Linked DNA regions of Homo sapiens: all the other regions are linked to region 3. Evidence: fine-mapped expression QTL. A gene starts in region 3. Each other region holds a variant in brackets. All regions are shown on one strand. Distances are between the middles of the regions. Region 1 has its middle 73 kb from the start of GCNT1. Region 2 overlaps GCNT1 (glucosaminyl (N-acetyl) transferase 1). Region 3 holds the start of GCNT1 (glucosaminyl (N-acetyl) transferase 1).

Region 1 (8,184 bases), 73 kb after region 3:
TGATGTTCAGATGTGTCCAGAGTTTCTTCCTTCTGGGGGGTTGCTGGTCTTGCTGACTTCAGGAGTGAAGCTGCAGACCTTCGCAGTGAGTGGGCGGCGCATCTGGAGTTGTTCGTTCCTTCCAGTGGGTTCGTGGTCTCACTGGCCTCAGGAGTGAAACTGCAGACCTTTGCTGTGAGTGTTACAGTTCATAAAGGTGGCACGTCCAGAGTTGTTCGTTCCTCCCATCTGGAATTGTTCATTCCTCCCATCTGGAATTGTTCATTCCTCCCATCTGGAATTGTTCATTCCTCCCATCTGGAATTGTTCATCCCTCCCCGTGGGTTCATGGTCTCCCTGGCTGGCTTCAGGAGTGAAGCTGCAGACCTTCGCACTGAGTGTTACAGCTCATTGTTACAGCTCATAAAGGCAGCGTGGACCCAAAGGGTGAGCAGCAACAACATTTACTTCTAAGAGGCAAAGAACAAAGCCTTGGCAGAGTAGAAGGGGACACAGTTAACCAAGTAGCCACTGCTGCCTCAGGTGGCGTGGCTTTTATTCCCTTATCTGGCCCCACCCACATCCTATTGATTGGTCCATTTTACAGAGAGCTGATTGGTCCATTTTACAGAGAGCTGATTGGTCCGTTTTACAGAGAGTTGATTGGTCTGTCTTGACAGAGTGCTGATTGGTGTGTTTACAAACCTTTAGTTAGACACAGAGTGCTGATTGGTGCGTTTACAATCCTTTAGCCAGAGGGAAAAGTTCTCCAGGTCTCCACCCAACCCAAAAGCCCAGCTGGCTTCACCTCTCAATGGCACTGGCCGCCAGGACTTTTGGGCACCTACCCCGGGCATTCCGGCAACCCAGAGGGAGCTCGTACCTGGATCAAGCCCAGCAGGCGCCGAGTGTGGGACCCGCTCCCAGCCCGCGCCCACCTGGAACCCGTGCTGGCCCACTAGCGCCACAGCCCCAGCTGCCGCCCTCGCCTCTGCCTCCACACCTCCCTGTGAGCAGAGGGAGCCGGCTCCCGCCTCGGCCAGCCCCAGAGAGGGGCCCCCACAGCACAGCTGCGGGCTGAAGGGCTCCTGGAGTGTGGCCAGAGCAGATGCTGAGGCCAAGGAGGCACCGGGAGTGAGCAAGGGCTGCTAGCACGTTGTCACCTCTCAAAACCACTTGAGCTTTACCATCCAACATAATATCCTTTCGTTATCTCCTCACTATAGTTCTAGAACTATCATTTGCACATTTTATGTTAGATATGATGGATCAAAATTGTTTACCAGAACTTAAATGGTAAAAAGAGGCCATATTAATTACATACTGCATTGACAATATTGATGATGCTTTGTTTCAGATATACTATATATCGATGTTAACTGCTTTTGAAATATTTGAAAATTAGCCAGGTGGGATGGCTCACATCTGTAATCCCAATACTTTGGGAAGCCAAGATGGCAGGATCGCTTGAGCGCAGGAGTTGGAGACCAACCTGGGCAACACAGTGACACCCTGTCTCTATATTTAAAAAAAAAATTGAAAATTGATACTTGTTTTTGAAATACTTGGCTTTATACATGTGTGTATAATAAAAAACAAGTATCTGCTTTGTGTAGGGCAGCACCAAAGTGGTATGTGTACATTTTCCTGGAAGAACGGAACATTGGAGGAAAAAGTGTTTGGATGCCGTGGGACAAGAGACAGGATTGAATGGGAGAGTGGAAGATAGGATGTTGTCTGTTCCTCAGCCCAGGCTCAGAGACCAGTAATTCACTGGAGTTACTATTTACATGAAGGACTTTGGGAGGCTCCAGGTACAAGCACAGATGTTTCAGGACTTCAGTGAAACATATTACCCTGATTTATAGACGGAGAAGCTTCCCCCTTCCTGGGTGCCTGCAGCACAGCTTTTAACACTGGGTTGGGATGGAAGGTTCTCCAGTGCTGTGTGGGCACCATGAGGAACTGAAAGTTTGGAAACAGCACCTAGATAAAAAGGCTGAAGTAGACACCAGCTAAAGTAATACTAACGAGGCATCTCCTAACAGGGCTTCTTGGCAGTGGAAAGGAGCAGCACAGAAAAATCTGACTGGGGCTGGGCGCGGTGGCTAACGCCTGTAATCCCAGCAGTTTGGGAGTCCAATGTGGGCGGATCACCTGAGATCAGGAGTTCGAGACCAGTCTAACCAACATGGTGAAACCCCATCTCTACTAAAATACAATTAAAAAAAAAAAATCAGCCGGTCGTGGTGGCACGCACCTGTAGTCCCAGTTACTCGGGAGGCTGAGGCAGGGAAATCACTTGAACCTGGGAGGCAGAGGCTGCAGTGAGCCAAGATTGCGCCACTGCACTCCAGCCTGGCAACAGAGCAAGACTCCGTCTCAAAAAAACAAACAACAGCAACAAAAAAACAAGAATTAGCTGAGCAGGGCGGCGTGTGCCTGTGGTCCCAGCTACTAGGGGGACTGAGGCAGGAGGATCTCTTGATCCCAGGAGGTGGAGCTTGCAGTGAGCCGAGATGGACCTACTGCACTCCAGCCTGGGTGACAGAGTGAGACTCCCATCTCAAAAAAAAAAAAAAAAAATCTGATTGGCCTTGGTACTGAGCACTTGGAAGGGGTCTCTAGTTATGGCTGGGGAAGCTTTAAAAGGTGGGCTGAGATCCTGTAGTCTGTAGAGGGGGCCCACTCAGCTAGGGAAATGTGGATGCTATCAATGTTAACGTCACTGAAGACATTTCATTAACCACAGGGCTGTATTTTTTTAGGCATTTGAACCAACCTATTTAGTAACTGCCAGGGCCACATGAGGACTTTCTTAGGCCCCAACCACGTTGCCTCTGTGGGCTCCTTCCTTCTTAAGAAAAAACAATAAAAATTGTATTTCACAACTGCATTAGTGTAAATATAAATATAATCCAGGCTGGGTCCATTATAATATATTCATTTTTTTCTTCTGATTTTAACGGAAATAAAAATGAAACCACTTTCTGTAGGCCTCTGAAAGTATTGTCGGTCGCAGGCACTCTGCCTGCTGTGACTAATGGAGACATTGTCCCTAGTAACTGCTTTCCTTTCGTTTTTTTTCCAGCAGCTTCTTCCCTCTTCCCTCACTTATGGCCCCTCCTGACAATTTTGTTGATTTCTATCCAAATCAGCCCTTTCACTAAGATTGAAAAGTTGCTTGTAAATTGGCCATGTTTAATCATTTGCCAGATATTTCAATTTTTAAAAAAACATTGTTATTAAATTGTTGATTTCTCAAATGGATTTGCTATTTTGAGAAAAAATATACTAACTATATACTCAAAATTGATTTTTTATAAAAGCAGGAAGCTACAGTTTTCTATGGGTACATGGACCCTAAAAACCTTCTGTTGTTTTTCCTAAATCCCAAACCCAGATT[T/G]TTTGTGTGGGTTCTAGAATCAGGGAGAGCAGTTCTGTGGGCTCTACTATTCAGAAAACACCACGGTCAACTGAGTCAACATAATCAGCCTTCCTGCCAACCACCCTTCAGCAACCACTCAACTATTTACTCCTTGATGGGAGGGCACTGCCAGAAAGTTTGCTCTCAGATTAAAAGCAAAACAAAATAAAAACAGCGATGTTTTCAGAAAAGAACTATTTCATTAGGTTTCTCTATTTGTCCTCTCCTCTGTCCACATTGCTAACATACTGGAAAGAGGTTGCTGGACTGGTTTGGTTTCTTAGGTGAGAGGAACATTAACTGGCCCCCAATTCTCAACCAGGCTGTTCGCTTTTCTGGCTTTAAAAGAAAATCAAGGGTGGGTACAGTGGCTCACCCTGTAATGCCAGCACTTTGAGAGACCAAAGCAGGAGGGTCACTTGAGCCCAGGAGTTCAAGACCAGCCTTGGCAACATGGTGAAACCTTGTCTCCAAGTCCTGAGTTCAGGCAATCCCGTCACCTCAGCCTCCCAAAGTGCTAGGATTATAGGCATGAGCCACCATGCCTGGCCTTCTTCAAAAACTTTAGAAATTAGCCAGGCATGGTGGCCTGTAGTCCCAGCTACTTGGGAGGTTGAGGTAGGAGGATTGCTTGATCCCAGGAGTATGAGACCGCAGTGAGTCGTGATTGTGCCACTGCACTCCATCCTGGGTAACAGAGTGAGACTTTGTCTCAACAACAAGAGAAAAGAAAGTTGACCAGGTGCGGTGGCTCACTCCTGTAATCCCAGCACTTTGGGAGGCTGAGGCAGGAGAATCATTTGAGCCCAGGAGTTTGAGACCAGTCTGGACAACATGGTAAAAACCCATTTCTACAAAAAATTTAAAAATTAGCTGGGCATGGTGGCCTGTAGTCCCTGCTACTGGGAGGCTGAGGCGGTAGGATTATTTGAGCCCAGGAATTCAAGACCACAGTGAGCCATAATCTCACCACTGTATTCATTCCAGCCTGGTCTCACAGAGTGAGACCCTATCACCAAAAAAGTTCCGGTACTTTGGGAGGCGGAGGCTAGAGGATCGCTTGAGCTCAGTAGTTTGAGACCAGCCTGGGCAAAATGGCGAAACTCTCTCTACAAAAAAAAAAATAAAATTTTTTCAAAAAAGAAAACCCTAAGTAGAAGAATATTCTCACAATCAGCTGGAAATATCAAGTATGATTCTGAAAGAAACAAATAACTGACATAAGATATAAGGTGCTATATGAGCATTTTCTTTTCTTGTTTTAAGATACGGTCCTCAGTAGCATATATGAACATTTTGATTTGAGTATGTATGAGTCTCCCAAGAACTTTTAAATTCTTCAACATCCCTTTTCTAGGGTAAAAGTGTTACTGAAGGACAGAGTGGCAGTCAATGCAGCCAAAGCAAAGGGCCTCCCCATTTAGTCCTAACTTATCTGTTCAGTGGCATCTCTCTCCTTTTTTTTTTTTTTTTTGTTGAGATGGAGTCTCATTCTGCCACCCAGGCTGAAGTGCCATGGTGATATCTCAGCTCACTGCAACCTCCGCCTCCCCAGTTCAAGCGATTCTCTTGCCTCAGACTCCCAACTAGCTGGGACTACAGGCATGTGCCACCACACCCAGCTAATGTTTGTATTTTCAGTAGAGATGGGGTTTTGCTATGTTGGCTAGGCTGGTCTCAAACTCCTGACCTCAAGTGATTCACCTGCTTCAACCTCCCAAAGTACTGGGATTACAGTGTGAGCCACTGCGCCCGGCCTAGTGGCATCTCTTACATGCTGTTTCATGTACCTTAAGCTCCAGCCACTTCAATTTTCCGTTACTCCTTTAACATAAGAATGTGTTCTCTTTCAACTCAGCAGTAAATGTGTCCCCACTTCTGCCTGGAATGTGCCCTCTTCCCCAACACAAATCCCTTCATCTCCCTTCATGTGAGCAGCCCCTTCTCCTAGACACAATTCCCACATCTCTCCAGCCTGTGTAATGTTTCCTGCATTCTCAGGGAAGGGGCTACTTTATAGGTGAAAGAGGAATGTGAGGGATACAGCTACAAAGACCACCATGTGCAGTTTGCCCGGGACTGAGGGGCTGTTCAGAATACAGGACTTTCAGTGTAAAATCTGACAGTTTCAGATAAACAAGCATGGTTAGTCACCATATATACCACACTCCTGAACCTTTCATAAAAAAAAAAAAAAAATGATTTGGGGGAAAAAAAATAAAGATTTGTTGACAAAATCTAGCTACTCAAGAGAAGAATCAAAACTAAGAGATCAGAAATATAGAAGGTTTGGCAAAAGAAATGGTAATGAGCACTGACTATATTTACATATAAAATTAAAAGGAAACACGGCAGAAATTATAGTCAGCACATAAGCTTTATAAACCTTAACCATGTAAAACTTATAACAATACAAATAAATTTTGGAAAGTGGAGAAAGGGAGGAAGTCAGGAGGTCATGTGCTGTACTAATTTTTTATATTTCATAAGAGGAAGTAAATGGATTCTGTCCAGAATTAAAACTAATAGTAAGAAAAAAAAGAAAGCTCTAAAATGACCAACTTCTTAATGGCTTTCCGTAATGTTTTCACTGAGCCCTAGAAGGATCTCTTAGGAATGCCTACTTTATTGTAAAGAAACATTCATTTGAAGTTATACTTTACTTTTTTCCCTTTTAAAAATATTAAATTATAATCTTTCATCTTAAAAATAGCATTTTTATTATATCCTTCTTTTATCTTTCTGTTTATCTAGCTGGCTAACCACAGAAATTCTGAGAAAAGTGACTAAATGTTACTAAATGTTGAGATTGCTTGCTCCTAGCTATTTGGATTTGGGGTGGAGGAGGATAAAACTTTTTTTGTGTGTCTTTTGGTATTTTTAAATTTAAATAGCTCTATGATGATTGATTTTATGTGTCAACTTGGCTAGGCCATGGTACTCAGATATCTAGTCAAGCATTATTCTAGATGTTTCTGCGAAGGGATTTTTTCTAGATGAGGTTAACATTTATATCAGTAGCCTTTGAGTAAAGCAGATTATACTCCATCATGTGGGTGGACCTCATCTAGTCAGTTGAAAGCCTTAATAATGAAAAAGACTGGCTTCTCCAGAAAAAGAAAGAATTCCACCAGCAGATGGTCTTTGGACTCAAACTGCAGCTCTTCCCTGGGTCTGTAGCCTGCTGGTTTACCCTGTGGATGTTGGACTTGTGAGCTTCCACGATCTCATGAGCCAACTTCTTAAAATCAATCTCTCTCTCTCTGTCTCTCTTTACATGTATACATATACATATACATATACATATACATATACATATACATATACATATACATACAGTCATTCTTCATACAGTCATCCTTCAGTAACTGTGGAGGATTGGTTTCAGGACCCCTTGAAAATACCAAAATTCAAGGATGCTTAAGTCCCTTGTATAAAATGTTGTAGTATTTGCAAGTAACCTATGCAGGCCCTCCTGTATACTCTAAATCATCTCTAGATTACTTCTAATTCCTATGTGAAAGGAAAATCTTTTGACCCCCAAATTACTAAGCTAAGGGAAAAGTCAAGCTGGGAACTGCTCAGGACAAACCTGCCTCTCATTGTATTCAAAGTCATCCCTCTGCTCACAGAAATAGATGCATATTCTGATTGCCTCCTTCTTATCGGAAGCTCAAAGACTGCAACCATTTGTCTCTCAGCTACCTATGACCCGGAAGCCCCCTCCCTGCTTTGAGTTGTCCCTCAGAACCAATGTAGTTCTTACATACATTGATTGATGTCTCATGTCTCCCTAAAATGTGTAAAACCAAGCTGTGCCCTGATCACCTTGGGCTCATGTCATCAGGATCTCCTGAGGCTGTGTCATGGATGCACGTCCTTAACTTTGGCAAATAAACCTCCTAAAATGATTGAGACTTGTCTTGTCATTTTTCTCGATTGACACCTAAGACAATGTAAATGCTATGTAAATAGTTGTTATACTATATTGTTTAGGGAATAATGACCAGAAAAGAATTCTATATATGTTAGTTAAAGATGCAATTATCCTCTCTTTTTTCCCCCCAAATATTTTCAATCTGCAGTTGGATGTGGAACCCACAGAGGGCTGACTGTGTATGCACCCCCCCTCCACACACACACACACACACACACACACACACACACGCACACAGTATACACAGTGTATAGAGACACACACACACATCCTGTTCTGTTTCTCTGGAGAACCCTAACACAAATACTTAACACACATGTATAACGTGTATAAAAACAACATCGTTATTCAAGATAATTATTCATTTTTATTAAAAAAAGTTTTATGTGAGAAAATAGGTCTAGAGGAATTTAGAAAAATGTCCAAGGGGACCTCCATAAGCCCCTTGCTCAGCTAGTTAGAGGTAGAGCTGAGAATAAGATCCCTGAATGATTGACTCAAGAGTTCACCTTCCTTTCCACTGAGCTATGATGGTTCCTGTATCGTTATCTAGTAAATTGGCAATATAGAAGCACTAAATGCTTGGAGAATACAGAATATGAGGTAGATCTTGATGGCTTCATAGAATCACCTGGGAGGAGAGAAATGTTGAAGTATTCGCAGGCAGGAAACAGTGTTGAACTAAAACCTTAAAGGAGAGGATGAGGGTAATATGTCTATAGGTTTGGATGGTTATAGGGTAGATGTACTATAAGTGAAAAAAAATCAAGGTATGGAGCAGTATGAATGTCACCCTTATTATATGAATATATGTATGTATATATACATGTAATCAGTTATT
Region 2 (8,184 bases), 27 kb after region 3:
CAGGGAATAAGGCCCAGGGAATCCAAAAGATTGAACACCCCTGCTTTAGAACATTGATTTGTATCAGTTATATATAAAAGCTGATTAGCCATCTTTATAGGTCTTAATTTTATCACTACCTGTAAGGCTTTTTAAAAATGTAGTTCTTATTTTAATTAGAGTTATAAATGCACGTGATTTAAAAAAGAAGATATTTCCACAAGCGTGTCAAGAACTACGAAGGGTCTGAGATTTTACCCTACTTGAAAGTTAACAAGCCTGTTAACAATTTTCATGGATCCTGGCAAAAGACACAGACTCCTGGGCCAGAGATGAAGTGCCATTTATGACCTATATTAAGCAGTAGCAGAGGATCAGCATTTTTCTTTTAGGTTGCTAGAGCCTTAATTCCCACAGGGCAGTATGAAGAGGGCCAAGTGATAACTACAAACAGTGGGTTGCATTATGGGAAAGAAACCCTGAGCTTAGAGAAGCCAAATCTTTTATAGTGGGCAGTAAGCATGCTGTGCTTTGCCCCAGGTAACATTGTCTTTATTATATTGTCAGTAAGAAGGTTTGCCCTTTGCTAGGGAGGGAAACACCATCTCTGTCTTTCTAGGCTGTTTGCTATAAAAATAGCCTTGAAAAAATTATCTGGAACAAAAAGACAGTGCCTCACTTGCAAGATGTACAGAAATGCAAGCCACCCATGGCGAATTGCCTCCCAACAAAGAGTTGTACTTACGAAAAACAGCATGCTTCTCCCAATGGCCCCCCAAATCTCCTACTCCCTAAAACTCCATTGTCCATTAGAAATATAATGTGAGAAATAAAATTTTCTAGTAGCAGCATTAAAAAAAAAAGAATCAGGGCTGGGCGTGGTGGCTCCATGCCTGTGATCCCAGCACTTTGGGAGGCTGAGGCGGGCGGATCACGAGGTCAGGAGATCGAGACCATCCTGGCTAACACGGTGAAACCCTGTCTCTACTAAAAATACAAAAAAAAATTAGCCGGGCGTGGTGGCAGGCGCCTGTAGTCCCAGCTACTCAGGAGGCTGAGGCAGGAGAATGGCGTGAACCCAGGAGGCAGAGCTTGCAGTGAGCCAAGATTGCACCACTGCACTTCAGCCTGGGCAACAGAGGGAGACTCCATCTCAAAAAAAAAAGAACTGGTAAAATCTTTTTTTATCCTTTTGAGACAGGGTCTTGCTCTCTTACCCAGGCTGGAGTGCAGTGGTGTGATCATGGCTCATTGCAGCCTCAATCTCCTGGGTTCAGGTGATCCTCCCACCTCAGCCTCCTGGGTAGCTGAGACTACAGGCATGCGCCACCACACCGGGCTAATTTTTTTTTTTTTTTTTTTGGTAGAGATGGGAGTCTCACTGTGTTGCCCAGGCTGGTCTCAAACTCCTGGACTCAAGTGATCCTCCTGCCTCAGCTTCCCAAGGTGCTGGGATTATAGGTGTGAGCCACTGCATCTGGCCAAATTAACAGTATATTATCTTTAATCTAGTATATCAAAATTTTATAATGTTAATATGTAAACAGTATAAAAAAGTGAAATATTGAAATGATACATGTGTCTAATATTTGTATTACAATGTAATAATAGTATCTTACATGATGTCATTAAAGTGAAATATAGTCCTACCGAAACAGTAATGTGTTTAAGGGAAAGACATTTAATACTGCTTCAAGTTTTAAAATGTAAATAATTAAAATTTTAAAAAAGTATTTGTTGAGACTAGCCTCATTTCAAGTGCTCAGTAGTTGCATGTGACTACTAGCTAACATTCTCTACTGCATAGCCCTGAAGTTAACCATTTTCAACTTTTTACAGATTTCTTTAGGTGTGTATTTTCATATCTCTAAATAATAATGCTTATATGGTTTCTAAATTATTCAGCTTTAAGTTCTTTCTACTATTAAGGAGGGGTTTTTTTTTTATTGTTTTTTGTTTTAATAGAGACAGGGTCTTTCTCTATCACCCAGTCTAGAGTGCAGTGGTGCAATCATAGCTCACCGCAGCCTCGAACTCCTGGGCTCAAGTGATCCTCCCATCTCAGCCTTCTGAGTAGCTGGGTCTACAGGCGTGCACCACCACACCCAGCTAATTTTTAAATTTTTCTTGTTTTTGTAGAGATGGTATCTCACCATTTTACTTAGGCTAGTCTCAAACTCTTGGGCTCAAGTGATCTTCCAACCTCAGCCTCCCAAAGTGCTACGATAACAGGCACAAGCCACCACACCTGACCATTAAGGAGGGTTTAATTCTCTTTCAACCAAAACCCTCCACCACACTTGCACTCATTTCCTGGCTGTCTCTCATCCCCAAAGTCAATGATTCTGAAAAACTTTTTGTCGTGTGTGTGTATTTTTAAATATGAGATGGGGTCTTGCTATGTTGATTCAGGTTGTTCCAGGCTGATCTGGAACTCTTGGGCTCAAGTGTTCTTCCCGCCTCAACCTTCCAAGTAGCTGGGATCGTAAGTGTGTGCCACCATGCCTGGCCTGAAAACTTTTTTATTTCAGCACTGTTTATACTTTAAAAAAATCACTGAGGATCACAAAGAGCTTTTGTTTATGTGGGTTATATCTATTGGTATATATTCTATCAGAAAGTAAAACTGAGGCTGGACATGGTGGCTCACGCCTGTAATCCTAGCACTTTGGGAGGCCAAGGCAGGAGGCTTGCTTGAGGCCAGGAATTCAAGATCAAGTTTAAGTCCAGCTTGGGCATCATAGTGAGACCCTATCTCTACAAAAATAAGCAGCCAGGTGCACCTGTGGTTGCAGCTACTTGAGAGGCTAAGGTGGAAGGATCCCCAGGAGTTTGAGCCTGCAGTGAGCCAAGATAATGACATTGTACTACAGACTGGGTGATGGATTGAGACCCTGTCTTAAAAAAAAAAAAAAGAGAGAGAAAGCAAAAAACTTAAGTATTACTTCTGTGAAAATAACAATGATAAGCCCTTTATTTTAACATAAGTAATTTCTTGTGAAAATCTTTTCAGAAAAATTGGAAGAATAACAGTGTTTTTGTATTTTTGCAAATCTCTTTTACTGTTTGACTTAATAGAAAATACCTGAATTCTGATACTTCTGCACTTATTCTGTTGAAAACAAACACATCATGTAGACCCTGGAAAACTGCGCCGTATATAACACAGAGGGAGTGAAAAGGGTGCAGAATGGCCTAGTATTATTATGAAAATAGTTTTGAGACCCTCTGTATATTGTCATGCTTTTTGTTTGACCACAACTCAATGTTTATATTACTATAGCCATGTATAAACTGAGCATAGCATACCATGATTGCTTTTTTTTTTTTTTTTTTCTGAGATGGA[A/G]TCTCACTCTGTTACCCAGGCTGGAGTGCAGTGGCACCATTTTGGGTCACTGCAACCTCCGCCTCCCAGATTCAAGTGATTCTCCTGCCTCAGCCTCCAGAGTAGCTGGGACTACAGACTCGTGCCACCACACCCAGCTAATTTTTGTATTTTTAGTAAACACGGGGTTTCACCATGTTGGCCAGGCTTGTCTCAAACTCCAGACCTCATGATCCGCCCACCTTGGCCTCCCAAAGTGCTGGGATTACTGGCGTGAGCCGCCGCGCCCGACCATGATTTCTTTTATTGTACATACTTGTTGGCATATTTTACTCACTTGTACTCAATGGCATTTTTTCATATTGTTTGTTTATTATATGTACTTTTATGTTTTTTGGAGATGGAGTCTCACTCCGTCACCCAGGCTGGAGTGCAGTGGTGCTATCTCGGCTCACTTCAACCTCCACCTCCCAGGTTCAAGTGATTATCCTGCCTTAGCCTCCCAAGCACCTGGGATTATGGGCGCATGCCACCACACCCGGCTAATTTTTTGTGTTTTTAGTAGAGACAGGGTTTTGCCGAGTTGGCCAGCCTGGTCTTGAACTCCTGACCTCAAGTGATCAGCTTGCCTCGGCCTCCCAAAGTGCTGGGAGGCCTGCATTTTACTTATTTAATTCTGGCCTGCACCTGGCCTGCATTTTACTTATTTAATTCTGAACTCTACCTTAGTTATCAAAATCTCTTCTAAATCCATTAATTTACAGCAGGGGTTCTCTGTTTCTCTCAAATATTTTCTGGAGCTGTTTACTTGCTTTAATTAAGGACTGGTTTCTTCCTAGTACTCCCACACAACCATCATCTTGGGATCTGTCTTTGTAATCCTAGGATTTCTGTTGCCTCTCATTTATATTGGGTCCCTTGATTACTGGATCCTGTCTCTTCCTTTTTTTTTTTTGAGACAAGGTCTCACTCTGCTGTCACCCAGGCTGAAGTGCAGTGGCTCAGTCTCACTCATTGCAACCTCCGCCTCCCAGGTTCAAGTGATTCTCCTGCCTCAGCCTCCCAAGTAGCTGGGATTACAGGTGTGCGCCACCACATCTGGTTAATTTTTGTATTTTCAGTAGAGATGAGGTTTCGCCATATCGGCCAGGCTGGCCTGAACTCCAGACCTCAAGTGATCTGCCTGCCTCGGCCTCCCAAAGTGCTGGGATTATAGGCGTGAGCCACTGTGCCTGGCCAGATCCTGTCTTTTTCTTAATGGGCAGTAGAGCGCAAACTTGGGGGCCAGATTATGTGAGTTTGAAGCCTAGCTCTTCTGCTTACTAGCCATATGACGTTCGAAGAGCTATTTAACCTCTTTATGCCTCAGTTTCCTTATCTGGAAAATAATACTTTCTATGTAGCATTCTCCTGAAGATTCTATGTGTTAATACGGGTAAGCCATTTAGAAGAGTTCCAGAGCATATTAAGCACTCCAGGTTAGTGATGTTGTTAATGCTCTTACAGTTGCTGGTGAATTTCATCTTTTAGTGGCATACTTCTCATAGTAACCTGCTGAGAAAGGTGCATGTGACTTTGCTGTATAAAAATGCCTTTCTGTTACATCACATTTGACCAATAGCTTGGCTGGTTATTTAGAATTCCAAGTTGAAAACAGTTTTCCTTCAGAATTTGGAAAGCATTGCTCTATTTTAGTCTACCTTTCAGCAGAAGGTGGGCTGTAAATTGCACGGTCTCAGCTTTCCCCATAGCCTGCTTTAGGATTCAGCTTCCTGAGATCTCCAAGTCAGTTATCATTCACTACCTCTAATTTTCAAATTTTTGATGCTACTACTTCAGTTATATTCTTTGTGTTTGAGGGACTTAGCCTTTTTTGAAAAATTGCTTATTATCATTTTATCTTAAACAGAGTATGCTTTTAGATATCTTCAGTTCCTGCAAGTTTGTGGGGAACTAGAAACAGAACTCTTTTCTGGCAGTCAAAAGAGAAGAAAGAATAGGGCTGGGTGCAGTGGCTCATGCCTACAATCCTAGCACTTCGGGAGGCAGAGGTGGGTGGATCACTTGAGGTCAGGAGTTCGAGACCAGCCTGGCCACAATGGTGAGACCCTCATCTCTACTTAAAACAAACAAACAAACAAACAAACAAAACTAGATCTAAATTTTTAGCAGAAGAGCTTGGCCGGTTCCTCATGGCCAGCCACAGTTAGGGTCTCAGCAGTTTGTTCAGTGTGAGACCACAGAGGAGCTAAGCAGCTCACTGCAGGGAGTCACAGACAGGTATCAGAGACTACCCTCCAAGCAGGGCAAGGTTGTGGTGGGGACAGAGACCAAATACCCTAAGATGAGATGAGGCTATGAAAGTGCAATTGGCCAGAAAGAACTCCACCCTGAATGGCAAGGCCTTCGCCTTGTGATCTTACCTGTTTCCTGCTCCTTCCCTTGACCTACCTTGGGTGGCGTTTGGGCTCCCTCACTTGGGTCACAGTCCTCCGAGATACTGGCATGGCTTTGACATCAAACACAGTAGTTGGTATTTTGCTCCAGTCACAGCAGCCTCTGGGACACTGAACAGTAGTCCTTGGAGAGTCAGTGAAATTGATAAGTATTCACTGGGACTAGAAGCCAACTGAACTTAGACCATGCTTCCTGCTGCCGAAGGGCAATAGGTTGGTGACCCAGGTTTATCCATCAGCGGTTTGTTTATGCATAGATGTGTGCATATGCTTACGTGCATATGTAGGCATGAGCCACCGCGCCCAGCCAGTTTTGTCTTCTTGAAGATGTCTCTCCCAGGGCCTTCTGACAGGTTCCAGTCTGCTGTGGTTGTCTGTTGGCTTGTTATATGGCCTAGATGTTCCTTGACCTGGGGATTCTCTTTTTTTTCTTCTTCGGTTAGATCTCCTTTCTGATTCTTACATCCTCCCCTTTCTTGGTTAATAATGCATACATATATTTGAGACAGGGTCTCACTCCTGTTGCCTAGGCTGGAGTGCAGTGGTGCGATCATGGCTTACTGCAGCCTTGACCTCCTGGGCTCAGGTGATCCTCCCACCTCAGTCCCCTGAGTAGCTGGGACTACAGGTGCACACCACCACACGCAGATAATTTCATATTTTTTGTAGAGACAGAGTCTCTCCGTGTTGCCCAGGCTGGTCTTGAACTCCTAGGCTCAGGCGATCCACTCGCCTCCACCTCCCAAAGTGCTAGGATCAGAGGCATGAGCCATGGCACCTGTCTAATAATTATTGAATATAACTCATTCTCCAGTAGCTGGACAGTAGCTGGAATACATTTTGCTTCTGAATCCATTTGATGTGGCTTAGTTTCCCCCCTCCCCTGAAAGTATATGCAGTATTCTTCCTCCCATTGTTCTGACATTTCATGATTAATGAATACATCTTGGTGTGGGTCTATTGTCATCCACTGTGCTGATACCCTAGAAGATTTTGCAATCTAGAAACCATTCTTTCATTTTGGGAAATACTCTTGAATTATTTAGTTGACGACTTCTTTCCTTTTTTCTTTTTCTTCTGTTTTCTTTTTCTGGAGCTCTTGTTATTCGTATGGTAGGTCTCCTGATCTAGTTCTCTAAATTACTGTATGTTTTGTTTTATTTTCTCATCCCTCAGTTTGTCTATTTGCTTAACTCGCTGTGAGTGTTTCTCACTTTATCTTCCAACCCTTTTATTGAGTTTCTCTATTTTTGGAGCTGGAGTCTTGCTCTGTTGCTCAGGGTGGAGTGCAATGGCACAGTCTCCGCTCACTACAACCTCTTCCTCCTGGGTTCAAGCGATTGTTCTGTCTCAGCCTCCCAAGTAGCTGGGATTACAGGCACACACCACCATGCCCCGCTAATTTTTGTACTTTTAGTAGAAACAGGGTTTCATCATGTTGGCCAGGCTGGTCCCAAACTCATGCCTTAGGTGATCTGTCTGCCTCGTCCTCCCAAAGTTCTGGGATTACAGGCCTGAGCCACTGTGCCCAGCCTAAGCCAGCGCACCTGGCCGAGTTTTTCATTTTTGCTATCATGTTAATAATTTTCAAGGGCTCTTTTTATTTGCTAGTTCTATTTATGTGGTTTCCTGTTTGTTCTAGTCATCTATTGCTATGAGGCAAACCACTTCAAATGTAGTAGGATACAACAATATCATTTTATTTTTTTGCTCACACATTCTGTTGGTCAAGAATTCGGTGAAGACTGGAGTTACTAGGGGCTGTAGTCATCTGATGGCTTCTTCACTCACATGTCAGACATCTGGCTGGGATTACTTGAAAACAGGGTTCAGCTGGAACAGTTGACTAAGGTACCTATATCTGGTCTCTCCATGTGGCTTCTTACAGCATGGAAGCTGGTTCTAAAAGGGAGCCTCTATCTAGAGAGCACATTTTTCAAGACAACTGGGCGGAAGCTGCATGGTTTTACATGACCTTGCCTTGATGGTGACATAGTATTTCTTTTGCCAAACTTTATTGGTCAAACCATAATCATAATGTGTCTGGAGTTGGTTCCTTCTGGAGGGTTCTTGGTCTCACTGACTTTAAAAATGAAGCCGCAGACCTTTGCAGTGAGTGTTACAGCTCTTAAAGGTGGTGTGGACCCAAAGAGTGAGCAGCAGCAAGATTTATTGTGAAGAGCAAAAGAACAAAGCTTCCACAGGCGTGGAAAGAGACCCCAGCGGGTTGCCACTGCTGGCTCAGGTGTCCAGCTTTTTATTCCTTTATTTGGACCCGCCCATGTCCTGCTGATTGGTCCGTTTTACAGAATGCTGATTGGTCCATTTTACACAGTGCTGATTGGTCTATTTTTACAGAATGCTGATTGGTGCATTTACAATCCTCTAGCTAGACACAGAGCACTGATGGGTGTTTTTACAATC
Region 3 (8,184 bases):
ATGTGCCTCTTCCCCTGCTGTCATGATTAAAAGTTTCCTGAGGCCCCCCCAGCCAGGCAAAACTGTGAGTCAATTAAACCTCTTTTCTTTTCTTTTTTTTTTTTTTTTTTTTTTGTTAGACAGAGTCTCACTCTGTCGCCAGGCTGGAGTGCAGTGGCATGATCTCAGCTCACTGCAACCTCCGCCTCCCGGGTTCAAGCGACTCTCCTGCCTCAGCCTCCTGAGTAGCTGGGATTACAGGCGTGCACCACCACGCCTGGATAATTTTTGTATTTTTAGTAGAGACAGAGTTTCACCATGTTGGTCAGGCTGGTCTCGAACTCCTAACCTTGTGATTCGCCCGCCTCAGCCTCCCAGAGTGCTGAGATTACAGGCGTGAGCCACCGCACCCAGCCTTTAAACCTCTTTTCTTTATAAATCATCCAGTCTCAGAAATGTCTTTATAGCAATGTGAAAGCAGACTAATACAGGACATTAAGGGGCTTATTCCAAATTCCAATGCTGGTTTAGGCTGAGACTAGATTAAAGGGCAAAGACCTGATGGAAGGAGAAAAGCCTCATTGAAGTTTGATCAAGTAAGGTATTTGCCCAGATTGATCAGTAGGGGCAAATGGTTCAGCTAACCATTTATAAGATGAGAATGGAAATTTGGAGCGCATGTCTATGGCCTTGTTGTAAGTGTGAAAGGATGTTATCCATGATGATTACCTAAGTCATTTGGGGAAAGGTGGTTCTATGTAGTTAGTGGTTTCTCAGAAAATACAGCCGGGAGAGGATGTTCACTGGTCTCCAGTAACACAAAGTATAGGTCAAGCAACACCATCCCCTTACTTTTTTTTTAATTTATTCTTATTTATTTATCTATTTTTGAGATGGAATCTTGCTCTGTCACCCAGGCTGGAGTGCAGTGGCATGATCTTGGCTCACTGGAACCTCCGCCTCCCAGATTCAACCGATTCTCGTGCCTCAGCCTCCCCAGTAGCTAGGATTACAGGCATGTGCCACCGCACCCAGCTAATTTTTATATTTTTAGTAGAGACGGGGTTTCGCCATGTTGGCTAGGCTGGAACTCGAACTCCTTACCTCAAGTGATCTGCCCACCTCGGCCTCCCGAAGTGCTGGGATTACAGGCATAAGCCACCATGCCCTGCCTCTGTCCCGTTATTTGATTGTACTTGTAACTATAGTTTTATTATGACATTTTAAGAATATATTGCTATTGTATTAATCATTACTATGACAGCTGTGTTTATCAGACACTTTCCCACATCTATAATATTAGGAGAGTTGGGTGTTTGTGATCATGAGTTTGCTCCTTGTGCTGGTTATTGAAGTATGTCTTAGAGTTCAAACTCAAGCTTCTATCTTCTGCTTTGTGAGCCAGGGCTGGGACTTAGCAAATCACATTTCCTATAAGGTTTTGCTTATAAGGGGTGCTTGAGGAGAGGGACTTGCTACTTTATAGCTGCTTACTGTTCCTGTCCATGTTACCAAGCAATGGCTCTTCTCCCTGGCTGCAGCAACAGCTGGTTCCAGTTTCTTAGATTTGTTTGTTTGTTTTAATCCACCCTCTCCCATCCAGCCTCAATATTTACCTTCAGAGATAAAAGCACCAGCTGGGTACCGCCCCCTCCTTTGAGGTCTGACTCCCAGCCAACCAGGGGCCCTCTCCTGGCTGTTAGGTTCTGATAACCCCAACACTTCCCCTCTCCCCAGCTCTGTGCATGGCAGCTGCTTCCTGCAGTTACTCTCTCTCTGTTACTACAATGTTTTTGCCTTGCCAATCTTCATGACCTTAAATTCTCTGTAAAAGTAATTGCTGTGATTTCTGTTTTCTGACTGGGCCCTGACTGATACACCCCTAAGCATTCCAGAAATACCTTCTAAACTACTTGTATAGATTTATGGGTGTATGTTATTGCAGGCATTAAAAATAAGTGGGCTGGGCAAGGTGGCTCACACCTGTAATCCCAGCATTATGGGAGACTGAGGTGGGTGGATCGCTTGAGCGTGGGAGTTCAAACCCAGCCTGGGCAACATGGTGAAACCCTATCTCTACAAAAAATACCAAAAAATTACCGGGCATGGTGGCACACACCTGTAGTCCCAGCTACTTGGGAGGTTGAGGTGAGAGAATCACCTGAGCAGGGGTAAGTTGAGGCTGCAGTGAGCTGTGATTGCGCCACTGTGCTCCAGCCTGAGTAACAGAGTGAGACCCTGTCACATACACAAACAAAATGGATTACACTTATGGTATACAGGCAGTATCCAACTGACAAACAAGATATATTCCAAAAGTTAATTCATAAATCTATTGCTTGGCCACCACCCCTGGTTAATTTATCTATTTTTATTTTGTAGAGGTGAGGTCTGGCTATGCTGCCCAGGCTGATCTCAAACTCCCAGGCTCAAGTGATACTTGTACCTCGGCTTCCTAAAGTGTTGGAATTACAAGCGTGAGCCATTGCAAACAGCCAGCTATATTTTATTTTTAATTAATTAATTTATTTATTTTTGAGATGGAGCCTTGCTTTGTCACGCAGGCCAGAGTGCAGTGGCACGATCTCAGCTCACTGCAACCTCCACCTCCCGGGTTCAAGCGATTCTCATGCCTCAGCCTCCTGAGTAGCTGGGACTGCAGGCACACGCCACCGCAGCTGGCTAATTTTTGTATTTTTAGTAGAGACGGGGTTTTGGTATGTTGGCCAGGCTGGACTCAAACTCCTGACTTCAGGTGATCCACCCACCTCGGCCTCCCAAAGTGCTGGAATTACAGGCATGAGCCACTGTGCCCAGCCCCGGCTATACTTTAAACTTATGTTTAGCAATTAACATGTCAGTATTTTAACTTACAAATGACTCAGACATTTAATGAATATCTATTACTTAATTTAATATGTTCGAAATTTCAAGTCACCAAAAAAGATTTTTAAAACTATTTTTAAGTAGACAAATTTTATAAAACAAATTATTTTTAAAAGTTTATAAACTTTTATTCCATTTACATTTACCTAATCTACTTGCTCTTAACAATTATGCTTGAATTGCTCATGAAAAATTTCATGAGATATTAAACAAAGCTAGCCATTGAAGGAGTTCAGGAGTTTTTCCCAAAATCATTTCCTCTCCCCTAAATTGTCCCTCCCCAATGAAGAGGATACACAAGCTCCTAAAATCTCAGTTTTTGTTGGGGGAGGCAGAGGGAATATTAGTTTTTCTTTTCTGTGATACCCCCTACACGAAATCTGTGTACTTTTTCTCTTGTTAATCTACCTGCAGTCAATTTATTTCATAGACTTAGTTATCCAAGCCTCAGAGAGTAGAGGGGAAGTCTTTCTTCCTCTATACCATCATCTTATGTTAATTTTTGTTGACAAATCAGGCAAGTGTCAAACATATCACAGTCTAATGGCCTCTGAGTTGGATTTTTTTTTTTTTTTTTTTTTTTTTGAGATGGAGTCTCGCTCTGTTGCCCAGGCTGGAGTGCAGTGACACGATCTCGGCTCACTGCAAGCTCCGCCTCCCGGGTTCACGCCATTCTCCTGACTCAGCCTCCCGAGTAGCTGGGACTACAGGCGCCCGCCACCACGCCTGGCTAATTTTTTGTATATTTAGTAGAGACGCGGTTTCACCATGTTAGCCAGGATGGTCTCGATCTCCTGACCTGGTGATCCGCCCGCCTCGGCCTCCCAAAGTGCTGGGATTACAGGCGTGAGCCACCGCGCCCGGCCAGAATTTTTTTTAAACAACATGGAAACAAATAAGACCTCGTTCTGTTTTCTAGGAGCTAAAAATCCAACGAAAGAAGACACAGACACAATATTCCCCTTGTTACAAAGAGAACTGTGTCAACTTTTATAACTGACACAAAGATCTGTGCTATAAGGGCGGGGAAGGTTTTTTCCTACTTTCCACAGCACTGTGGATTGTTCCACAGTTTAATTTGATCTTAATTTTTATGTGGAAATACACATGAATGTAATGAGTTCTTAAATGCTAAATTTAGGAAGCAAGGTTCGTTAGGGGAGAGAAAAAAACACCTACATGGTTATCTCTAAACTTTACATATCGAGAACCTTGGAATTTAATTTTATTGTTGTTCTGTAACATATTTTCATGTTTAAAATCAGAAAAGGCAGCATTTCTCGAGTTTCCTGCTTTCGAGGAAGGGAGGCATAAAATGTTTAAAAAGACGCCGCTCACACACCTCTTAAGAATCAGAGCACAGTGAGGAAGAGGAGCGAGGAAGCACTAGGATCGCAGCGCTACTCCCAGACCACGTCAGTGCCCAGAGGGCGCCCTCGCCTGTAGGCGGGAACCGCGAGTCCGCAGCAAGTCCCCAGCCCCGAGCTCGCGCAGGTGGGCGAGGCGGGGACGTGGTGGGCGGGGCCTAGAAAGGCGGGGCCTCTGGGGGCGGCCCCGGGGCGGGCCACGCTGGTGTGAGGGCTGCAGGCGCAGCTCCGGAGCGCCTAGAGCGCGGCGCGGGGCGGGAGCTTGGTGGAGCAGGAGCGGCTGGGCATCCTCCTGAGACTCCGGGGTCAGACGCCCACTCCAGGTAACCGGCTCTCCCTCGTGTTCCCCTGCTCGGCCGCCCGGCGGTGGGGGAAGGCTGAGAAGGATGGGTGGGAGGGAGCCGGCTCTCAGCCAGTGCCCCGTGGCCCCGGGCGGGCTGGGCTCCCCCGCGGAGGAGGAAGCAGAACCGGGGTGCGCCCGGGACCGGAATGGAGCGGCGCCTCTTCCTTCCACCTTCATTTTCCGTCCGCTCAGTGGGGCTGGGACGCCGGTGCCCCGTGTCCCCTGAAAGTCACTTTCTGGCCTCTTGCCCCTGGTCCGTGTAGCTTAGATGTCGGAGGGGTTGGCTGCGGGCGTGGATAGGCAGGGAACGAACAGACTCGCTGCCATCCCATGGGTGCCAGGGGCTTAACTTCATTTAACTTCATTGAATCCTAACGCCAGCCCGGCTAAGATGCATTTTCACCCCTACTTTACTGATAAAGAGGCCAACGCTAGGATAATAAATGACTCACCCTGGAGCAAACTATTACTAATAAGAAAAGAGACGTTAGTTTAGGGGCTCCGAAGCCTCTCCTTTCCTGCTCCCTCGCTTTCCTTCTTCTCGCGGCAGTCTAGGAAACTCGCGCGCAGGGTCTATTACGAAAACAAGTGATTCGTCTTAAAAGCATTTTACCCCCTCCTAGGTTTCTCTTTCCTCTTTTTTTTAAGTATCTCAGGCAGATTCCTCCAAGTTTTGGTTATTAGGTTTTTGAAATGGAAGAAGCCCTTGCTCACTGCTTCTTTTCTCCTGGCAGCGCTTTCTGCGCAGCACAGGCACCCTCGCCTGTCACGCCTCCCTCTCCTCTTCCCGTCTCCCAGCGTGGATGAGGGCGCCTGCAGATCCCGGCTAGGGCACGGACCGCCTAGGCCGAGGTAGGTTCTGTAGGCACCTGGCATGCTGTAGATGCATATAAACGTTGCCCTGTACACCCTTTGCCTTGTTATTTCTTTCTGCAGAAAAGAGAGTCGGTTTTTTACACATAATGGGGCAAGAGGCCAATTGGGAAGATATATGGTGTTCAAAGAAAGCCGTGGTGCCTTGAGATGAGAATGCGGCCACAGCTTTTTGTGGGCTGAATTTGATGGGTGGGAGGTGAGAGACGTGGTCTGGAAGTTGTCTCTTCGTCTGGCATTCTGCCCCCCTTCCAGAGCTGTTCTGAAAGGCCGGTTTGTTTTATAGAGGGGAGGAGGAGGGCTTAGTAGTTTTTAAAGATCAGTGTAAATTACCTGCTAGGAGCTTAGGCAATTCCAGGCAGGCCCCCCTGCTGGAGGCTTTCGTAACAGATTTCAGTTCTAGCAGGGAGGAAAACTCAGACTGTGTAGATACCTGCTTTTTCTTAAAGGAATTTTTTTCGGGCCCTTAAAATGGTAGTTTTGGGAAACTGATTTCTTAGAAATGGCAAACTCCTTTATTTTAAAATACAATATACCAAACTATGAATTTACTTTTAAAAAGTTTTATTGGCCGAGAGGTTGATATTTTTTCCATTTCATGATGAGGGTTTGACGGTCACTGCCACCTCCTCTGCCCGTCCTTCAACTTGGCCCTGTAAAGGATCTCCTTAGCCTTGGCCCCAAGTTTGTACTAGATTCTATCCTTCATTAATTATAGTTCATTCTTGATTAATGATAGCAATGCTTCCACTCACTTTTTAAGGAGTTACTCCTTTTCCGTTTGTAATTGAATTGCTTAACAGTAAGAAAAACGTTTTTCCCTAAAACTGGGATCACAAAATCCACTTTATCCACATGGACTAAACAGGTAATGCACAAGAGTGCTTGGTTGGGCCCAGGTGACTGCAGAGGAACCTGCTAAGGCTGGGTGGATATTGGCCATTTCCACCGAGTATCCATGCAGGAATTCCCATTCAGCCATACAGTGTAGGCAGCTTTTTTTTTTTTTTTTTTTTTCCACGAATAGCTGAGAACTTTTACTTAAAAATAAAAAATGTAAAGCCTGATTTTAAATATTGGCTCATATTTTTTCCTTTTTAGAACACAAAGAGGGCCGGGCGCAGTGGCTCACACCTGTAATCCCGGCACTTTGGGAGGCCCAGGCGGGTGGATCACGAGGTCAGGAGTTCAAGACCAGCCTGGCCAAGATGGTGTCTCTACTAAAAATTCAAAAATTAGCTGGGCGTGGTGGCTAGGCGCCTGTAATCCCAGCTACTCGGGAGGCTGAGACGGAGAATTGCTTGAACCCGGGAGGCGGAGGTTGCAGTGAGCCGAGATTGCACCACTGCACTCCAGCCTGGGTGACAGAGCGAGAGTCTGTCTCAAAAAAAAAAACACACACAAAGAGCCTGGGCATGGTGGCTCACACCTGTAATCCCAACATTTTGGGAGGCTGAGGCAGGTGGATCACTTGAGGTCAGGAGTTCAAGACCAGCCTGACCAACATGGCAAAACCCCATCTCTACAAAAATATTCAAAAATTAGCCAGGTGTGGTGGTGGGCACCTGTAATCCTAGCTACTCAGGAGGCTGAGGCAGGATAATTGCTTGAACCCGGGAGGCGGAGGTTAGGATGAGCAGGGATCGTGCCACTGCACTCAAGCCTGGACGACAGAGTGAAGCTCCGTCTCAAAACAAAAATCCCACAAAGAATAAAATCAAATTTGTTTCATGCATCATCTGTTTGCAAAACTCTGCCTTAAAAACTGCTACTGTACACGGTGATTATATTCTCCGATGAATGGAAAATTCTGAACTGTGATGTAGATATTGTACATTTTTCATGAAATGAAGTGGTAGAAAACAGAAATTACTACTGGAAATGATCCCTTCTGACTGTCAAATTCTGTTTTCTATGAAGTGTGTGGTATTTCAGCTATACTGTATTTTTTTTTTTTTTATAGAGCCAACCAAGGACTCTTGTCACTATTTTTATTTATTCTAATGAGAAATGTATTCATGGTTCCAGGTCAGTATGTCAAATGTCTAACTCCCTGTCTTAAAAAGGGAGTTCCCAAATGACTGTTCATATAACCATATGTGTTTCTTGTGGAGACTGTCTGTATTCTTGGCTTTGTCACTGGATTTGTGGCTTAGTGCTGTCACGTTTCCTATCTGAGGCAAATGCCATATATGTTTAGACCAGCCTTTCTCAATTGTGGCACTTTTGCCATTTTTGGCCAGTTAAATTCTGTTGTGGGGGCTGTCCTGTGCATTGCAGGATGTTTAGCAGCATCTCTGGCCTCTACCTACTAAATGCCAGTGCACCCTCCCTGCAGTTAAATGACCCCAAATGTCTCCAGACATAGGCAAATGTTCCCCGGAGAACAAAGTCATCTTTGGTTGAGGAACAAAATGAACCTATATTTAAGATGGTCTAAATGTTTCTGAGATGGTCTAAACATTTATAAGCTTAACAATTAACTTGAAACTCTTCAGGACTAGAGAAGCTATTTGTAAATTTAAACATCTGACGCCTTGAAACACCTTTATCATAAAGATAACTAAACCAGTGTTCTTTGTGAATGGCCAATGTGTCCTGCCAGTTTCTTTTTTTTTCTTTTTCCTATTCTGAGAAGCATGCCCTGCCAGTTTCTATCTCCAAAGAAATTTCAAGCGTTCAGTGTATTTGTTAAATTTCATAAAGTTTAAAAAGTTGAAAATGAAAAAGGAATTC

What was found.
Region 1: its variant is fine-mapped to the expression of GCNT1 in whole blood (INTERVAL, PIP 0.92).
Region 2: its variant is fine-mapped to the expression of GCNT1 in esophagus mucosa (GTEx, PIP 0.96).

Annotation. Positions count from the first base shown.
Region 1 is chr9:76,527,926-76,536,109 of GRCh38, forward strand. No RefSeq gene overlaps it. Among named protein-coding and RNA genes, the nearest start is that of GCNT1, 73 kb to the left of the region's middle. The variant T/G (reference allele first, on the strand shown) is at 3,386.
Region 2 is chr9:76,481,490-76,489,673 of GRCh38, forward strand. The region is part of intron 2 of GCNT1 (glucosaminyl (N-acetyl) transferase 1); the gene reads left to right. Among named protein-coding and RNA genes, the nearest start is that of GCNT1, 26 kb to the left of the region's middle. The variant A/G (reference allele first, on the strand shown) is at 3,326.
Region 3 is chr9:76,454,751-76,462,934 of GRCh38, forward strand. It overlaps GCNT1 (glucosaminyl (N-acetyl) transferase 1), which reads left to right and starts at 4,432. Exons shown (of 4, transcript NM_001490.5): 1 at 4,432-4,555; 2 at 5,310-5,427. RefSeq lists silencers at 4,217-4,756, 5,747-5,816 and an enhancer at 5,367-5,476.